2 separate regions of the Homo sapiens genome follow, and region 1 is linked to region 2. Evidence: fine-mapped expression QTL. A gene starts in region 2. The other region holds a variant in brackets. All regions are shown on one strand. Distances are from middle to middle. Region 1 holds the start of MMP19 (matrix metallopeptidase 19). Region 2 holds the start of CD63-AS1 (CD63 antisense RNA 1).

The links.
Region 1: its variant is fine-mapped to the expression of CD63-AS1 in blood mononuclear cells (TOPMed, PIP 0.92).

Annotation. Positions count from the first base shown.
Region 1 is chr12:55,838,427-55,847,524 of GRCh38, reverse strand. MMP19 (matrix metallopeptidase 19) reads left to right here and starts at 4,589. Exons shown (of 9, transcript NM_002429.6): 1 at 4,589-4,781; 2 at 5,087-5,172; 3 at 6,289-6,419; 4 at 6,643-6,858; 5 at 7,784-8,029; 6 at 8,791-8,919. The coding sequence starts at 4,695. The variant A/G (reference allele first, on the strand shown) is at 4,991.
Region 2 is chr12:55,723,890-55,732,987 of GRCh38, reverse strand. It overlaps CD63-AS1 (CD63 antisense RNA 1), which reads right to left and starts at 3,894. Exons shown (of 2, transcript NR_183514.1): 1 at 3,633-3,894; 2 at 2,136-3,326. RDH5 (retinol dehydrogenase 5) reads right to left here. Exons shown (of 5, transcript NM_002905.5): 4 at 8,939-9,098; 5 at 8,283-8,666. The coding sequence ends at 8,443. CD63 (CD63 molecule) reads left to right here and starts at 3,979. Exons shown (of 8, transcript NM_001780.6): 1 at 3,979-4,035; 2 at 4,636-4,712; 3 at 5,649-5,837; 4 at 6,024-6,098; 5 at 6,193-6,288; 6 at 6,727-6,867; 7 at 7,092-7,175; 8 at 7,362-7,665. The coding sequence starts at 4,647. The coding sequence ends at 7,427. It overlaps BLOC1S1-RDH5 (BLOC1S1-RDH5 readthrough), which reads right to left. Exons shown (of 6, transcript NR_037658.1): 5 at 8,939-9,098; 6 at 8,246-8,666. RefSeq lists silencers at 3,633-4,012, 4,283-4,582 and an enhancer at 3,547-4,153.

The DNA of each region.
Region 1 (9,098 bases), 110 kb before region 2:
GAGGTCTACTCTACTCCCACTTGCTATAGTTTAAAATATTGTCATTAAAAATATTTCTGTAAAACTCTTTTGCCACAATTTGTGGACAGAGAGGGAAACCAACTTGCAGGAAGGGAGCAAGCAAGACAAAGAACCCATTTTTTTCTCTCAGATCAAGTTCTCTTTTTGGGGCAGGCAAGCCACATGTCCTAACCCTTCGCACACACGTCCACATCTCCCCCAGTGAGAGATGACAAATTTAGAGATGACAAAAAAGAGCTGGGTCAGCCCGGCTCAGGGGGTAGGAGCTGGTGGAGGGGGTGGTCATGATGCTGTGCTGGCAACAATTAGTCATCCAATCCTTGCACATGTGCCCAGCCTGCAGCTCCAGACTCTAGGGGCTTTTGTTTGGGTGCCTGTGGGAACTCTGGGAGACTGAAGAGTGCTGAGCAAAGATGGCAGCTTTAGAGCCTGCTCCAGGCTCTGCTGCATCCTAGCTATGTGACCTGAAGCAACTTATTAGAGACTCAGTTTCTCTTTCTGTAAAAAGATGATAATACTGGCCAGGTGCGGTGGCTCACGCCTGTAATCCCAGCACTTTGGGAGGCCAAGGGAGGTGGATCACTTGAGCTCAGGAGTTTGAGACCAGCCTGGCCAACACAGCAAAATCCCATCTCTACTAAAAGTACAAAAATTAGCTGGGTGTGGTGGCACGCGCCTGTAATCCCAGCTATTCGGGTGGCTGAGGCAGGAGAATTGCTTGAACCCGGGAGGCAGAGGTTGCAGTGAGCCGAGATTGCGCCACTGCACTCCAGCCTGGGCTACAGAGTGAGATTCAGTCTCAGAAAAGGAGTAAAAAAGATGATAATACTGGCTGAAGGGTTGTTGTTAAAATTTAAATGAAGTTATCTATTTGGCAGCTTTTACTTTTGATTTATTCTCTCTCTCCTGGCTCCTAAGTTGCTAGAATATAGTTCCACCCCCAGGCCTTCTGAGGCCGGAGTTAGTACCCACCCTCACCTTATGATAACTGCCATCTCTCTCCCTAACACACTAAATATATATATATATATATACACACACATATATATACACACACACACTTTTTTTTTCTGGTTAGGCACAGTGGCTCACACGTATAATCACAGCATTTTGGGAGGCCGAGGTGGGCCGATCACTTGAGCCCAAGACCAGCCTGAGCACCATAGGAAACCCGCCTCCCCCACCCCCCACACTCTCTACAAAAAATACAAAAATTAGCTGGGCTGGGTGGTGTGTGCCTGTAGCCCCAGTTATGCAGGAGGCTGAGGTGGGAGGATTGCTTGAGCCCAGAAGGCGAAGGTTGCAGCGAGCCAGGATTATTGTGCCACTGTTTTCCAGCCTGGGAGACCCAAAAAAAAATTTTTTTTTCTTTTTTTCCTTACATGAGGTTTCTAAGGGGAGGGAGTAATTTGCTATAACATTCATTTTACTTTACTCCTGTCCCTTGCATCCTCCTTGTCTGTCTCTTCCCCACCCCTCCCCTCACCTCTCCTCCATTATCCTCTCTGGCTCCCAAAGCTTTCTCCTCCCTCCCAGACAGTCTCTAGGGGCTGAGGCCAGGCAGGCGGAGCTGGGTGAGCTCAGTTCCACAGACAGTTTCAAAGAAATGCATCAAAATGTTACTAGTGGTTCTCTTTTGGGTAGAATTTACTAGTGGTTTTCATTTTCTTCCTTGTTTGTTTTGGTATTTTCTAATACCAAATATTATAATGAATGATGAATAACTTATTCAGGAAAAAAACACAAAACATTAATTTTAAAAATCGTAATTAATTTTCAATTGGCGCATGTTCTGTTCTCAAAAGGAGAAAGACTGGAAAGGGGGTAGAAAGAGAGGAGGAAGAGCCCCGCAGGGGACTAAGCAGGAACTTGTCCCCAAACTCCATCATTTCCTGGGTGCATCAGCCTTGGTGATGGGCCCTGTCACTCATCGCTCAGAGGCTTTCTGTCCTTCCTTGCCTGTCACTGGTCACTTGAGACTTAGTCACCCAATGGTTACCAGTTGGGTGGTGGATGGGCCAGACGGACCAGCATCATTGAGGGCAGCAATATGGATCAGGAGCATCCCCCACCTTGATCCTGGGCTGTGAGGTGTTCCCTTGTGGCCTCCCAGCCCTTCTGAGAACATAAAAGTTCAGTTACCTTTTCCCCCATTCCTATGTCTACTTCACTGTGCTTTTGAACAATATGAAAATGTTGTATGATGTGTAACTGATGGTGGAGCCTTCAGGGGTCCTAGTTACTTAAAGAACAAAGCTCTAAGTGTCAGTGTGGTGTACGGAAAGAGCATGAGTTATAGAGTCAGCAGAGGGATTTAAATAAGGTCAGGCCAGTTGGGAGTTCCATGTTCTTGGTCAAATTTCCCTTTCTGAGTATCTATTTCCTCCTACAAAAAGTGGCCGGAATAATTTTCCCCTCACCAGATGGCTGTGAGAACTATAGGAGGTAATATATAAAGCATGTAATACATAGTAGCTTTTTATTTATTTATTTATTTATTTTTTTTTTGTGGGGGGACAGAGTCTCGCTCTGTCGCCCAGGATGGAGTGCAGTGGTGCGATCTCAGCTCACTGCAACCTCTGTCTCCCGGATTCAAGCGATTCTCCTGCCTCAGCCTCCTGAGTAGCTGGGATTACAGGCGCGTGCCACCACGCCTGGCTAATTTTTGTATTTTTAGTAGAGACGGGGTTTCACCATGTTGGTCAGGCTGGTCTCAAACTCTTGACCTCAGGTGATCCACCCACCTCGGCCTCCGAAAGTGCTGGGATTACAAGTGTGAGTCACCATGCCCGGACTTTAATTCCTTTAATTTTTTATTTCCATAGGTTTTTGGGGAACAGGTGGTATTTGGTTACATAAATTCTTTAGTGTTTAGTGGTGATTTGTGAGATTTTGGTTCACCCATCACCCAATAATAGGTATTTTTATTTTAATTAATTAACTAATTAACTAATTTTGAGACAGAGTCTCATTCTGTCACCAGGCTGGAGTACAGTGGCGCGATCTCAGCTCACTGCAATCTCCGCCTCCCCAGTTCAAGCAATTCTCCTGCCTCAGTCTCCCGAGTAGCTGGGATTACAGGCGCATGCCATCACGCCTGGCTAATTTTTGTATTTTTAGTAGAGACAAGATTTTGCTATGTTGGCCAGGCTAGTCTCAAACTCCTGACCTCATGGTCCGCCCACCTCAGCCTCCGAAAGTGCTGGGATTACAGACGTGAGCCACTGCTCCCGTCCGGTATTTTTAAATGTAAGTTTTTCTTCTTTTCCTTGCATAGCATTTAAGGCCCTCTCCAAATTCTGTCTCCCAACCACTTTCCCACCCTGGTCATTCTTTGACAGTGATTTATTAAGCACAGCCTCGAAAGCATGGAGGTGGCCTGGGGTAGGCACTCGGGCTTCAGTGGTGAATGAAGCAGTCGTGACCCTTCTGACTTACTGAGTACAGCAGTCTCTCAGCTCTGCACTTTTACTCAAGACCTGCACTGTCTGTCTCTCAGTATCCTTTTACCCTATCAATTCTTTTTTTTTTTGAGATGGAGTTTTTGCTCTGTTGCCCAGGCTGGAGTGCAATGGTGTGATCTCAGCTCACTGCAACCTCTGCCTCCTGGGTTCACGTGATTCTCCTGCCTCAGCCTGCCGAGTAGCTGGGATTACAGGCGCCCGCCACCATACCTGGCTAATTTTTGTATTTTTAGTAGAAACAAGGTTTCACCATGTTGGTCAGGCTGGTTTCGAACTCTTGATCTCAAGTGATTCACCCACCTCAGCCTTTCAAAGTGCTAGGATTACAGGAGCGAGCCACCATGCCTGGCCTTACCCCATCAATTCTTAGCTGGCCTTCAAAGCCCATCTCAAAGCCTGACTTCTCAGCAAACCTCCCCCCAGCCCCAAGCCCCTTAGGGTGAATCACCTCTGGCCTGGCACGCTGGCTCCCCTCTTCCCAGGTGTCTGGATCTGCCTCACTGGATCCGTAAGCTCCCTGAGGGTAGGCTCTGGGCCCTTTACTTATTTGTGCCCTTGTTAAGTCCCACCTACACCCACATATTCCAGGCTCATTAGATTCTTGAAATAATGACTTTTTATTAAAGCAGACATAAGTAGGTTGCAGGAGCATCTATATTCCCAACTTGGTCTTGGGTACAAAGAAACTGAGACTTCACGCTTGACTCCTTCACCTGAAACCCAAGCTACCTCAGCTGTTTCCTACCTCTCAGCTTATTCTAGGGAGACTCAAAGGTAGGGGCGGAGTGATTTGCTGGCCCAGGGTCCCTGAGGCACATTGATGTCTAATTCCAGGGGATGTCCATGATCCCTATCTCTAGTCTCTCCAGAGATTCTGGTTCTCGTCCTGCCTGGATGCTCACCCTAGGGCAGTATGAAGTTTTTCCATCTCCAGCAGAGGACTCTGAGGGAAGCGATTGGGAACTCTCTTTGGCTTCCGCTCTCTGGTAGGGCAAGGGTTAATGGTGAATTGCAACATATCTCTTGGCTGAGTCACCTCCCTCTGCCTCTCCCCCAAATTCCCCTCAGCTGTTATAAAGAGGACTAGAGGCTGGAGAGTAAAAAGAACTGGGGGTAAGAGCCCCTCTGCCTAGCACTGCTCCCCCAAGGCTCCCAGAAATCTCAGGTCAGAGGCACGGACAGCCTCTGGAGCTCTCGTCTGGTGGGACCATGAACTGCCAGCAGCTGTGGCTGGGCTTCCTACTCCCCATGACAGTCTCAGGCCGGGTCCTGGGGCTTGCAGAGGTGGCGCCTGTGGTAAGTCCCCCAAGAAAGAGACCTGGGCCAGCGGAGGGACAGGGGTTACTGCTCCACAGCCCCATCGAAGCCTCCCTCCTGACCTTCAGCCTGCCTGCCTTTCCCTTGCTCTCTCTGCCCCATGGTCTACCCTGCCCATCTCCCGCTGCTTCCCCTTGTTCCACCTGAGCCCCTTCTCTAAGGTGCTTCTCCATTAGTGCTTCCATATC[A/G]GGTCCCTCCTCTCCTGATGGATCTGTTAGGTCACTTAGAAGCTTTACTCTGAGACTAACCCCCTTTTAACCTGCTTACCTCCACTCCCATCATAGGACTACCTGTCACAATATGGGTACCTACAGAAGCCTCTAGAAGGATCTAATAACTTCAAGCCAGAAGATATCACCGAGGCTCTGAGGTGAGAAGCTATGAGGTGTATGCCTTTAGGGCTAAGGTCTCAAGGTCTTCTTCCTTCTCATCCCTTCCTCTCCCCAGGCCCACCTCCTCCTGACCCTAAACCATGCCAGGGATTTAGAGATGGGTGGCGATCATTATTATGGTGGTGGGGCATGGGGTGAGATGGGGATTCACAGATGAGGAATACAGGCATTGGATCTTCCTAGGCCATAAGCATTCCTTTGGAGTCTCTACCCACATCATATCTCAAATACTAATATTTAGTTATAGTCCACATAAAGTGTAATGATATGTAAAACTGAGTTGAGTTGTTGACATGCTATTACCTTTTGTGGGCCTTCAATTTGGTACTTATTTATTTCTATTTTATAGTTTTATATGTTGATGTAATGGATTATTTTTCTTTCTGCTCTCAGATATGTTCAGGTCCCTTGAAAAGCCCCTAGGCCCTATGACAGTCCATAGATGGATGAAATTGCTCCAGGGCAAGCTGGGCTGGGACGGGTATCCATTCAGGAAGGGAGAAGGCTGAAGGAGGACAGGCTGTCAGGTGGGAGCACTAGTGGAAAGCTCTCCAGAGCAGGGGAGCCAGACACCTCCACAGAGTAGGAGAAGGTTAGAAATTGCAGTAGAGGGGCTGGGCATGGTGGCTCACGCCTGTAATCCCAGCACTTTGGGAGATCCAGGCAGGGGGATTGCTTGAGCCCAGAAGTTTGACAGCAACCTGGGCAACATAATGAGACCCCATCTCTACCAAAAAAGAAAGAAAGGAAGAAAGAAAGAGAGAAGAAAAAGAAAGGAAGGAAGGAAGGAAGGAAGGAAGGAAGGAAGGAAGGAAGGAAGATTGCAGTAGAGGAGGAAGGCTACACCTGAGGGCAAACTTACTCAAATAAAAGACACTGAAAATGGGGAGATGAAGCTGGAGTATCTCCATTTCTGCAGAACAGAAGAGAAAGTCCCAGTTATGAGGACTGGAGGCTGGAGTAACCCTGTCAGCTTCAGGGATTCTGTGCTATTCTTGGCCATGAACTTGGGCAGCAGGAAGTCAAAGAGCAATCATCTCCCAGTCATTTCAGATTTTCCTGTCCTGGTAGACCCATCCCTCTCCCTCCTTCAGAGCTTTTCAGGAAGCATCTGAACTTCCAGTCTCAGGTCAGCTGGATGATGCCACAAGGGCCCGCATGAGGCAGCCTCGTTGTGGCCTAGAGGATCCCTTCAACCAGAAGACCCTTAAATACCTGTTGCTGGGTGAGAACAGAGCCTGGAAAAGAGAGGGAGAGGAGGGGGTGATGTGGTTCTGGCGTGTGGGTGGCATTAGGACAGTCTGGACCAGCTCAGTGTTGAATAGATAATCACCTGGTGATTACCTGGTTGTCACCTGTCTTGGGGGTTGAGTGCCTAAACCCAGAGGAGCTCTCTGGGGTTGGCAGAAGGATCTGTATTTCTAATCTGTTTTCTGGTCATTAACTAGGCCGCTGGAGAAAGAAGCACCTGACTTTCCGCATCTTGAACCTGCCCTCCACCCTTCCACCCCACACAGCCCGGGCAGCCCTGCGTCAAGCCTTCCAGGACTGGAGCAATGTGGCTCCCTTGACCTTCCAAGAGGTGCAGGCTGGTGCGGCTGACATCCGCCTCTCCTTCCATGGCCGCCAAAGCTCGTACTGTTCCAATACTTTTGATGGGCCTGGTAGGCAACAGTTCTCAGTTCCCACCTCATAGACCTCTGAGATTACCTCTGTCTCCTTGAACCAGTGACTCTAGAACCTTGATGTTTGGGCTGCTCTTTATCCCACCTGCACCATACGCTCTCTAATTACCTCCTAACGGGAGCACGGGCGCAGTTGGTCATCTACATGGAGCCTCCTGTTTGAAACTTCCTCCCTCCCTCCCTTCCTTCTCTCCTTCTCTCTCCTTCCCTCCCTCCCTTCCTTCTCTCCCTCCCTCCCTTCCTTCTCTCCTTCTCTCTCTCCCTCCCTCCCTCCCTTCCTTCCTTCTCTCCCTCCCTCCCTCCCTCCCTTCTTTCCTTCCTCTCTCTTGCTTGCTTGACAGTCTCACTCTGTTGCCCAGACTGGAGTACAGTGACACAATCATGGCTCACTGCAGCCTCAACCTCCCAGGCTCAAGTGATCCTCCCGCCTCAGCCTCCCAGGTAGAGACTACAGGCAAACACTACCACACCTGGCTAATTTTTGTAGAGATGAAGTTTTGCTATGTTGCCCAGGCTGGTCTTAAACTCCTGTACTCAAGCAATCCTCCTGCCTTGGCCTCTGAAAGTGTTGGGATTACAGGTGTGAGCCATCACCCCTGGCTGCCTATGCTTCTTTTTCTCCCTTAAGTTCCCCTGTTCAAGGCATACCTTAGAGGTATGGGCCAGAGAGGACTGGGTCAGAGAGCAGGGAGTGGCTGGGAAGGTAAGGGACAGTGATGGGCATTCCTGAGAGAACTGGGTGATGACAGGGGAATCTGAAAGGGGAGAAAGAAGCATCCAAGAGACAGTGAACATAGCTGGGGGAATTTTAAAGGTATGCATTAATTAGAGTTTATAATAGGCAGGGTGTGCTCTAGCCTAGCGGGCTCTGACCTCCTTCCTGTTCACCTTTGCCTTTGTCCAGGGAGAGTCCTGGCCCATGCCGACATCCCAGAGCTGGGCAGTGTGCACTTCGACGAAGACGAGTTCTGGACTGAGGGGACCTACCGTGGGGTGAACCTGCGCATCATTGCAGCCCATGAAGTGGGCCATGCTCTGGGGCTTGGGCACTCCCGATATTCCCAGGCCCTCATGGCCCCAGTCTACGAGGGCTACCGGCCCCACTTTAAGCTGCACCCAGATGATGTGGCAGGGATCCAGGCTCTCTATGGTCAGTCCCTCCCCCTAGTGAGGGGGAGGGTCAGTCTGACTCCCACGTCAAGGCTTGAAGAGACAGGTCTAGCCTCCATGTAGGGATATAGCTTAGTGTCTTTCTTCTCCTCCAGCCCAGTTACTCAGGCTTCTTCATTTTCAGGAGCAGTTTTTCTCAGACTCTTCTATGTCTAATCTTCCTTCCAGGCCTCTCTCCTTACACCCATGCTTGGGGATGGAGAATGCACCTTCTTTTTTTTTTTTTTTTTTTTTGAGATAGAGCCTCACTCTGTCACCCAGGCTGGAGTGCAATGGCATGATCTTGGCTCACTGCAACCTCCGCCTCCCGGGTTCAAGCCATTCTCCTGCCTCAGCCTCCCAAGTAGCTGGGATTACAGGCACACGCAACCACGCCCAGCTAATTGTTTTTGTATTTTAGTAGAGATGGGGTTTCACCATGTTGCCCAGGCTGGTCTTAAATTCCTGAGCTCAGGCAATCCACCCGCCTCAGCCTCCCAAAGTCCTAGGATTATAGGCGTGAGCCACCACACCCGGCAAGAATGCACATTTTAACAATCCTCCTTCTCCCTTTCTGGTGTCTCTCAAACCTAGAACGTGTCTCCCGCTGATATCAACATAATATTGCCTACCACAAATGAAAACGCTCTAGGATTCCCTTTTCCCCTCTGTATGGGGACTCTGAGCAAAACTTACAGGAGACTGGTGTGGAGGACAGGTGCTGTGAGTTCTCTCCCTAAGCAGCATTACTTTACCTTATAGGCAAGAAGAGTCCAGTGATAAGGGATGAGGAAGAAGAAGAGACAGAGCTGCCCACTGTGCCCCCAGTGCCCACAGAACCCAGTCCCATGCCAGACCCTTGCAGTAGTGAACTGGATGCCATGATGCTGGGTGAGGCCCCTCCCCTCCAGGCTGTTGGCAGGCGGTGGGGGCAGCCTGCTGATCCTGAGGCCTGGACAAATGGGAGTGACATGGGACTTCAGCATGAGCAATGGAGGTTAGACCCCAGGCATTAATGACCATGGAAGGAGACATGTGACATGGGGAGGGAGAGTTCGGAGCCAAATTAA
Region 2 (9,098 bases):
GATGATGCATCCTTGTTTCCTTCTTCCCTCCCATCCCTATCTCTTCCTCTTCCCTCTCCCCACTCCTCTCTTACACCTATTTTTCAAAAATTAAAGAAAATGTTTTTTAAACTGAAGCCCAAGAAGCATTGATCCTTCATGTATTTTTGCCTCCTCTTCCCCCATCCTTCCCCATGCCTCCCACCCTCCTCTATGTCTCTCACTTTCCGGTTTTTCCTCACCCCTCTCCCAACTCTCCTCAACTGTTCTTTTCCCTTGATTCTGGATCCCTTCTTTCTTCCTCACCTTCCTCATATCCCCTCACCCTCCTCATATCCCCTCACCCTTTCCTGTGCTTAGATGCAGGCTACAAGCTGCTGTGCATGGCACTGGGTCTGGCTGATGCCTACATGCTCTCAGAAGGCTGCAGGTTTGCTTGAGACATCTGTGGCCCCCATGCTGTGTCGCTGGGCCTAGGTGGAGGCGTGGTGAAGCTGGAGGGAAAGCTGGCTTTGCTTGGTGTGGAGGGACAAGGGTCCCCGCCTCAGCACACCTACCACCAACTGGTGCCAGGCAACCAAGAGGCAGCAGCCTGGGCCAGCCAGGACGGCTTGGTGGCATATCTGGATGTCAGGCACTTGGAACAGGTGCTGGGGGATCTGAAGGATGTGAAGGGCCAGGTCTGAGATCAGCCACTTCCCACTAAGAGGCCCCTCTATCCTGCACCCCAGCAAACACATGGAGCTCTGTGTCAACTTTCCAGGCTGTAGAAGTGGGCCATTCTTTGTGTGTATGTGTGTAGTAAAATATATATAACATAAAATTCAGGGACATTGAGTACATACACATTGTGCAACCATCAGCACCATCCATCTCCACAACATTTTCATCTTTCTTTCTTTTTCTTTGAGACAGAGTCTCGCTCTGTTGCCCAGGCTGGAGTGCAATGGCACAATATCGGCTCTACTAAAAATACAAAATTATCCAGGCATGGTGGCGCATGCCTGTAATCCCGGCTACTCAGGAGGCTGAGGCAGGAGAATCTCTTGAACCTGGGAGGCAGAGGTTGTGGTGAGTTGTGCCACTGCACTCCAGCCTGGGCAACAAGAGCAAAACTCCATCTCAAAAACAAAAACAAAAACAAAAAACCTAGATGTTTATGGTTAAGGAAACAAATTAATAATAATAAAAAAGATAATATCGATTCTTACAAAATACAGTAATTAAGAAAATTAATCCTTTATCACAAACTTTTGTAGCAGAGCACATCTCTCCATATATACAAGCATTATACCGAGGGTGAATGTGTTCCTCCTCTTACTTTTTTTTTTTGAGACAGAGTTTTGCCGGGCACAGTGGCTCACGCCTGTAATCCCAGCACTTTGGAAGGCTGAGGGGGCGGATCACGAGGTCAATAGATGGAGACCATCCTGGCCAATATGGTGAAACCCCATCTCTACTAAAAACACAAAAATTAGCTGGGCGTAGTGGTGCGTGCCTGTAGTCCCAGCTACTTGGGAGGCTGAGGCAGGAGAATCACTTGAACACGGGAGGCGGAGGTTGCAGTGAGCCAAGATGGCACCACTGCACTCCACCCTGGTGACAGAGCGAGACTCCGTCTCAAAAAAAAAAAAAAAAAAAAGAGAGACGGAGTTTCACTCTTGTTGCCCAGGATGGCATGCAGCAACACGATCTCTGCTCACTGCAACCTCTGCCTCCTGGGTTCAAGTGATTCTCCTGCCTCAGCCTCCTGAGTAGCTGGGACTACAGGCACACATCATTGTGCCCAGCTACTTTTTGTATTTTTAGTAGAGACGGGGTTTCACCGTGTTGGCCAGGCTGGTCTCGAACTCCTGACCTCAGGTGATCCACCTGCCTAGGCCTCCCAAAATGCTGGGATTACAGGTGTGGTGAGCCACTGCGCCTAGCCCCTCCTCTTACTTTGGGGAACATCCTACTCTGTCTATGGAGCAGCTGTTGTTTCACCACTTTACTTTCTTAATAAACTTGCTTATACTTTGCACTGCGACTCGCCCTGAATCTTTCTTGCATGAGATCCAAGAACCCTCTCTTGTGGTCTGGATTGGGACCCCTTTCCTGTAACAAATGCATTGGCTGATAGGAGAATAAAGAAAAAAAAAGAGGAAAAACTAGAGTAACTTCTCTACATAATCATATTATATGACCGTTTTGTTAACCATGATAACAGTTAACAAAATAATTTTCTTATGTCTAATTCTCAGTCCATGTCTGTATGTCCCAAAATGTCTTTCACAGCTGGTTTGTTCAACCATTCAATGAAGGACCAAACATTGCAGTTGGTTGTTATGTATCTAGTCTCTCAATCTTGATCTTCAGACCACCTTCAGCCCATCTCACCACATCCGTCCCAAGCCCTTTGAGCCAGCCAACCCCAACCTGCCATGTACTTTACAAAATGCTCCTTTTTTTTCCACAGTCGACTGCTTCTCTGTCCCTGGAGCTCTCCCCTTTATTCTCCAAGGTCACCTTGAGCACATCCTTCTGCTCCGTGAAATCCATTCTCCTCTCCCTTTCCCTCCCTCTGAGCTTAACCAGCTGCCACCGCAGGCTTCTGCCTTTCTTCACAGTGTGGCCAGAACTCGGTTCTGCCTGCTAGCAGAGGGCAGGGCCGCTGTCTTCCTCTCCTTGCAGCCCCCAAGCCTAGCACATGCCTGGCATCTAGTGGCAGCACAATAAGGAACCTGATGAATACTCCTTTCTTCTGCTCTCCGCTCCTCCTCCACAGCCTGCCAGCCATGGTCAGGAAGAGCAAGATCCGGAATGGGCTTGGTGTGTCCCGCGGGAAGGCCGTGATCCTGGAAGATGCTTCTCAGCCCAGCCCGGATCTCCTTCCTTTAGCTCTAGAGACTTCTTTCATTCTTTGTGTACACACATACACTAAGACTCAGGAAGTGGTTCTTGAGGCAGGACCTTAAGAGCCCAAGGAGTGGGGCCGAGGCTGGAGGTGTGGGGGTGTGACGGCCGGTCCTACTCTCCGGCCTGTTCAGATCAGCTCCTTCTGGGGACCACCCCTGGCACACAAGGGAGGGAGGCAGCTTGATCCCCCTAGCCCGCTTCCAGCCCTCACCTGGCTTTGTCTTCTGGGATAAGACGGGGAAATCCAGAGGATGTAAGCCTCTCCTGCCTTCGTGTCTTCCCCCAAGCCCTCGCTATCACAGACGGATGCAGGAGCTGTCTGGGAGGCTGGAAGCACAGACCTTGTCAATCCTCCCCCAGAGGGCGGGACCCGACGCGGACGTGTCTTGATTGACTGGGTAGCGTGGCTTCGGGGAAGGGCTTCCTCCCCTTTTCTCAGACTAGGATCCCTGGAAAATGGAGAAGCTGTGCTAATAGAGGGGGGCCAGAAATCCCCACTCTAGAATGCTGTAGAATGTTGGGAGACACCCAGGATGTGAGCCAGGGACTTTCTGGAAGTGTTTGTTCTGGCCCCACCCGACCCCAGGCAGTCCCCAGCTGTCTGCACAGTCGGATGGGGAGGGGGCTTGCACAGAGTTGGAGCCAGAGGAGAGAGCTGGCTCATCCCCTACGGTAGGATGGGGAAACCTCACAGACCACATTGTCACCCGGCCTCAGCTCTCCGCCCCGGCGCTCAGAGGGTAACTCTCACCCACCTCGTCCGCTTCTCTGAACCAGAGTGACCCAGGCTGCGCTCCGCCCCGCTCTCCTACCCCGAGTTGGCACGGAGGTATAGCGCCAGAGGGGGGCCCCAGGCGCCCCGAGGTCTTGCCCTTGCGGCTTTCCCTTTGCGGGGGTGGGCGCCTTCTTCCGGGTAGGGGCCACGTGGCCCTGGCCGGGCGGGGGGCTCGGCCCACCCCGCGCCGGGCCCAGTGACTCAGGCCGCAGCTGTTACCGCGTCACATGAGGGAGGCCGGCGGCCACTCGGCGGGGGAGGGGACCGTGGCTGGAGCCCGGGGCGGGGCCGCGCGGCAGGCGGGGCGGGAGCCGGGGGGCGCAGCTAGAGAGCCCCGGAGCCGCGGCGGGAGAGGAACGCGCAGCCAGCCTTGGGAAGCCCAGGTGAGGCCGCGGGGACCCGGCGGACTTCGGCGCGGGCTGGGAGAGACCACCCGCAGTCCCTTCCTCCAGGGCTCGCCCCAGGCCCGCGGAGACTCGTCCGGCGCTCTCCAGCCGCCCTGGAGCAACTTTGCTTCGAAGTTCCCTGGGCCCGGGCAGGGTGTGGCGGGGGTGCTGGCTGCACTTTTTTTTTTTTTGGTGGGCGGGGAGGTCAGAGCCCAGGGGAAAGGGGCTGGGGCGGGGGTCGGGGTTGGGCTGAAGACCGTTTCTCCAGGCTGGGTGTTGGGTGGGGAAAGGGTGTTTGACGCCCGGAGACTGGCGGGCCGAGGGTCGGCGTCAGGCTCAAGCCCCTGCCGGCGCCCTTGGATCTGTCCTGGGCCCCAGAGGCGGCGGGGCGGGGTCCGGGCTTCGCGGCCGTCGCCCCCACCCCTCTCCTGCGGGTAAAGAGGGGGCTGGGAGACGTGGATCCGACCGCGGGTTTCCGGGTGGGAGGGGCCGGGAATCGGGGCCGTGAAGGGAAGCCCTCGAGGGCCGGCCGGGAGCCCGGAAACCGAGGTCCCCCTTCGGCCAGTTTTAATCCCCCCGCCCTCCCCTCTGCCCCAGGCCCGGCAGCCATGGCGGTGGAAGGAGGAATGAAATGTGTGAAGTTCTTGCTCTACGTCCTCCTGCTGGCCTTTTGCGTGAGTGGCGAGGGGTCCTGGGGGGCGCGCCGGCAGGGTGCGGGGAGACCTGGCTCCACAGTGGTGAGGGCTGAGGGAATGAGAATTAAGGCAGCTGGAGACCAGATGTGGAAAGAAAGCCAGGGAAAGACAGCGCAGCCACTCCCTCCTCCAGTTTTCCTGGACACCTGAGGCTTGTTTCCACCGAGAATGGCCATCCTGGGTGTGCAGCAACCCCTACCCCCATCCCTCCTGGCCCTTCCTGTCTGGTGACCCAACCACTTGTGATATGGGGCAGTGGGGCAACCAGCCAACCGCCTGATGCTATCGCCATGGGGCTTCCCTTCGCTCTCCCTTCTCCCCTCTCTCCCTCCCCAACCCTCTCATCCCTGTCCAGCCCCTCTCCCCCTTTCCCTCCTCCCAGCGCTTGGGGGTGAGGAAGGGCTCTGCCCACTTCAATTTGCTCCTGCCCTGGGCTCCTGGCTTGAGAGGCTACTGTTTGTCTAGGGAGGGACACATCACTCTTGCTCCCTTTTCCTCTTCCCTTCTCCTGGCCTAACTGGCCAGAGGAACCTTAGTCACAGCTGATGCGCGCGTGGGATGTGCACTGGAGGATAGTGAGGGGGCAGTTCTGGGAGAGAATTGAGCTGGGAGCCCTGGAGGCCTGTAGAAAGCATTATTCTAGGTCAGAAATACGTGTCTTGAGGTCAAGGCTTTCTGGGAGGTTTTTGAATTTGGTCATGTCCCTGATTAAAGAGCCGGGAGGGGATCAGGGGAGGTAGGGGCAGGCAAGGATGGGTCATCCCCCTACCCCACAGCCAAAGAAATTCCCTAGAGGTGTGAGAATCTCTCTTCCGGATGGGGTCAAGTCTGTGTCCTAGGTGTACCCCCTGCCCTCCACCATGGAGGGCCACTGTGTTGTGGATATGGCCTAATCCTCACCTGATTTTCTCTTAGGCCTGTGCAGTGGGACTGATTGCCGTGGGTGTCGGGGCACAGCTTGTCCTGAGTCAGACCATAATCCAGGGGGCTACCCCTGGCTCTCTGTTGCCAGTGGTCATCATCGCAGTGGGTGTCTTCCTCTTCCTGGTGGCTTTTGTGGGCTGCTGCGGGGCCTGCAAGGAGAACTATTGTCTTATGATCACGGTGAGTTGGGGGCGGGACCAACATGGGCGGTCTGGGACTGCCAGAGCAGCTTGGTTCGGGCTCAGGAAGGTGGGTGAGGTGGGTGGGTGAGGAAGACCTTTGTGAGTGTCCAGGGACCGGCTGTGCCAAAACGGGCCCCTGTAATGCATAGACTCCAAACTTGACTTCTGTCCTTTGCTCCTGCAGTTTGCCATCTTTCTGTCTCTTATCATGTTGGTGGAGGTGGCCGCAGCCATTGCTGGCTATGTGTTTAGAGATAAGGTAAGCAGGGAATAATGGGAAGGGCCTGCCTCAGCCGGGTCTGGGACCCTGGTGCTTGAATTCTGACTGCAACAGTGCTCCTCCGTACTCTCAGGTGATGTCAGAGTTTAATAACAACTTCCGGCAGCAGATGGAGAATTACCCGAAAAACAACCACACTGCTTCGATCCTGGACAGGATGCAGGCAGATGTGAGTGGGGTTGCTGGGAGCAGGGGTGGTGGGAATAGAGAATTCTCATCTCCAAGGCTGGGTGTGGTGACTCACGCCTGTAATCTCAGCACTTTTGAAGGCCGAGGTGGGCAGATCACCTGAGGTCAGAAGTTCAAGACTAGCCTGGCCAACGTGGTGAAACCCTGTCTCTACTAAAAATACAAAAATTAGCCAGGTGTGGTGGTGAGTGCCTGTAATCCCACCTACTCAGGAGGGTGAGGCAGGAGAATCGCTTGAACCCGGGAGGCGGAGGTTGCAGTGAGCCGAGATTGAGCCACCGCTGGGCACTTGTCTGGGCAACAGAGCAAGTCTCTGTCTCAAAAAAAAAAAAAAAAAAAAAAAAAGAATTCTCATCTCCATATTGAAGGTGAAGGTTCACTTAACAACCTTCTTCTCCATATTTCTTCCCTCCCCCAGTTTAAGTGCTGTGGGGCTGCTAACTACACAGATTGGGAGAAAATCCCTTCCATGTCGAAGAACCGAGTCCCCGACTCCTGCTGCATTAATGTTACTGTGGGCTGTGGGATTAATTTCAACGAGAAGGCGATCCATAAGGAGGTAGGGAGGAGACTGTGTATGGGACTTGGGAAACCTGGGAAATGTTTTAGAATGCAAGAGACCCAGGATGGAGGTGGACAGGGTCAGGGATGGGGAGGGGATCTGGAAATGCTAAGGGTGGGGTGAAAGGTACAGGGGCAGGGAAGAGACTGATGGACCAAGGGAGGGGGTTGGGGTGGGAAGTTTCTGATGGTGCTTTTGTCCTTTGTGCCTGCCACCTTCAGGGCTGTGTGGAGAAGATTGGGGGCTGGCTGAGGAAAAATGTGCTGGTGGTAGCTGCAGCAGCCCTTGGAATTGCTTTTGTCGAGGTAAGAGATAACCCTGAGCAGGGGCTGGGACTCTGTCCAGGGTGCCTGGAGGGAAGGGGCTGAGGGGAGGAGGGTGCTGAACAGGAGGTACTGGCCTGGGAGTGTGTGTTTGGAGTCTCTTGCATGGGTCTGAGGTAGCTAGCCCTTCTGACTCCTCTCCACCCCTGTCCCCATCTTTCCTTCTAGGTTTTGGGAATTGTCTTTGCCTGCTGCCTCGTGAAGAGTATCAGAAGTGGCTACGAGGTGATGTAGGGGTCTGGTCTCCTCAGCCTCCTCATCTGGGGGAGTGGAATAGTATCCTCCAGGTTTTTCAATTAAACGGATTATTTTTTCAGACCGAAAAGAGATGGTCTGAGTTTGTCTTAGAGTGATGCTTGATTCCTTCCTTTCCTTACTGATGTTCCCTGTCCTCTGGGACCTTAATGCATGTGTACTTCGAGGTCTATTTTGGGGGGTGTTTGGGAAAGGAGGACTTTGCGAAGGTGTTGGTTGGGCAGGCAGTGGGAGAAGTGAGGATCCAGAGACTGTGGTGCTTTCTGCCCCCTAGTCTTATGCTGCCAGGCTCACTATGAACATTCATGAAGCCATCTGCTGCATAAGTCAAAGCAGCTCCCCAGAAAGGTCCCACCTGCGAGAGCCCAGCCCCCATCTGCCTTGGACATCTTCCTGGCCTTCTGTGCACCGCTAAGGGCCCAGCACCTCCCTTCCTGGCCAATCCTCAAGGGATCCAGCTCCTTTCGAAGTATGATAAGTTGCCTTGACACCTGTGTGGTCAGTGTCCTTAGCAGGAGAATTTATGTGAATATTGCCTTTTCTTCCATGGAAGCCACCCAGCCTGGCCCAGAACCCTCATCACCTGCTCTTCTCCCCCAAGAAATATGAAGACCATTCCCAGTACAGACACTGAATTGCAACCTTACTCCCCTTCAGAAAATAAGGGAAATGTATTAAAGTGCCCTTTGATGGCCACTCCCCGACGTGCAGCTGTAGATGTGAGGCAGTTCCCTGGCGCCCCACTGTGGGTGCTAGCTGTTTTGCAGGGACTGAACAGGCCAGAGACCGTGAGCATGTCGGTTTGGAGTAGTTGGCACTTAAATGGGGTCAGCCTTCCACTGGGCACATTTCTGCCCACCTTCTTTTTATTTTTTAAACAATACACTTTTGTTAGTGCTTATTTTGTGGCAGGCACCAGGCAGTACCAGGGTGGGGGCAGAAATAAATCAAAGTCCTTGTCCTTGAAAAACAATCTCTTGCTGGAAGGCTGGATTCAGTAGACTGCTTGGGCAGGCTTGGGAAGGACCCAGGTGAGCACAGCATCCACCAGGCTGGCTGGCAGGTAGGAGGCAGGCAGCCAGAGCAGCTTGGCATCCCAACCTGGGCTGTAGCGGGTTCGGGGGTGTCGAGCAGTCAGGGCATGCTCCAGGCATCGGCTCACCTTGGTTAGGTCCGGGTCACAGATCAGGTTCATGATGCGCTGTTGCATTTTCAGGTCTGCAGCCCCATAGGTGGTTGCAATCAGTTTCCCTTCCTCACTCCAGCCCATCTTAGGTACTGTCTTCTGGGGCCCTGGGCTTGTCACCCTCAGTCCCCTCCTCAGTGTGGGGAGTGGGCAGGTTCCACATGGCCTGGGCACTCTTGTAACATCCTGTTCACCCTCAACCCTGCCCTGGGTGCCCCACCCACCTCCTAGCAGGCTTATGCAGGACTGGCCTTTCTGGTACTTGTTTCCCTTCATGTGCCCCTGTGTGGGCCTGGCTACTCACACTTGGTGAGGAAGGCCCCCCCATAGTGGGCCTGTGTGGCAGGAGGCAGCCGTGCCCAGCAGGCCTGCAGGGTTTTCTCCAGACTCTCCAGGTTGGTCACAGGGGTTCGGAAGAAGCCAGGCTCCACGATGGAGACTCGTATCCCAAAATGAGCTACATC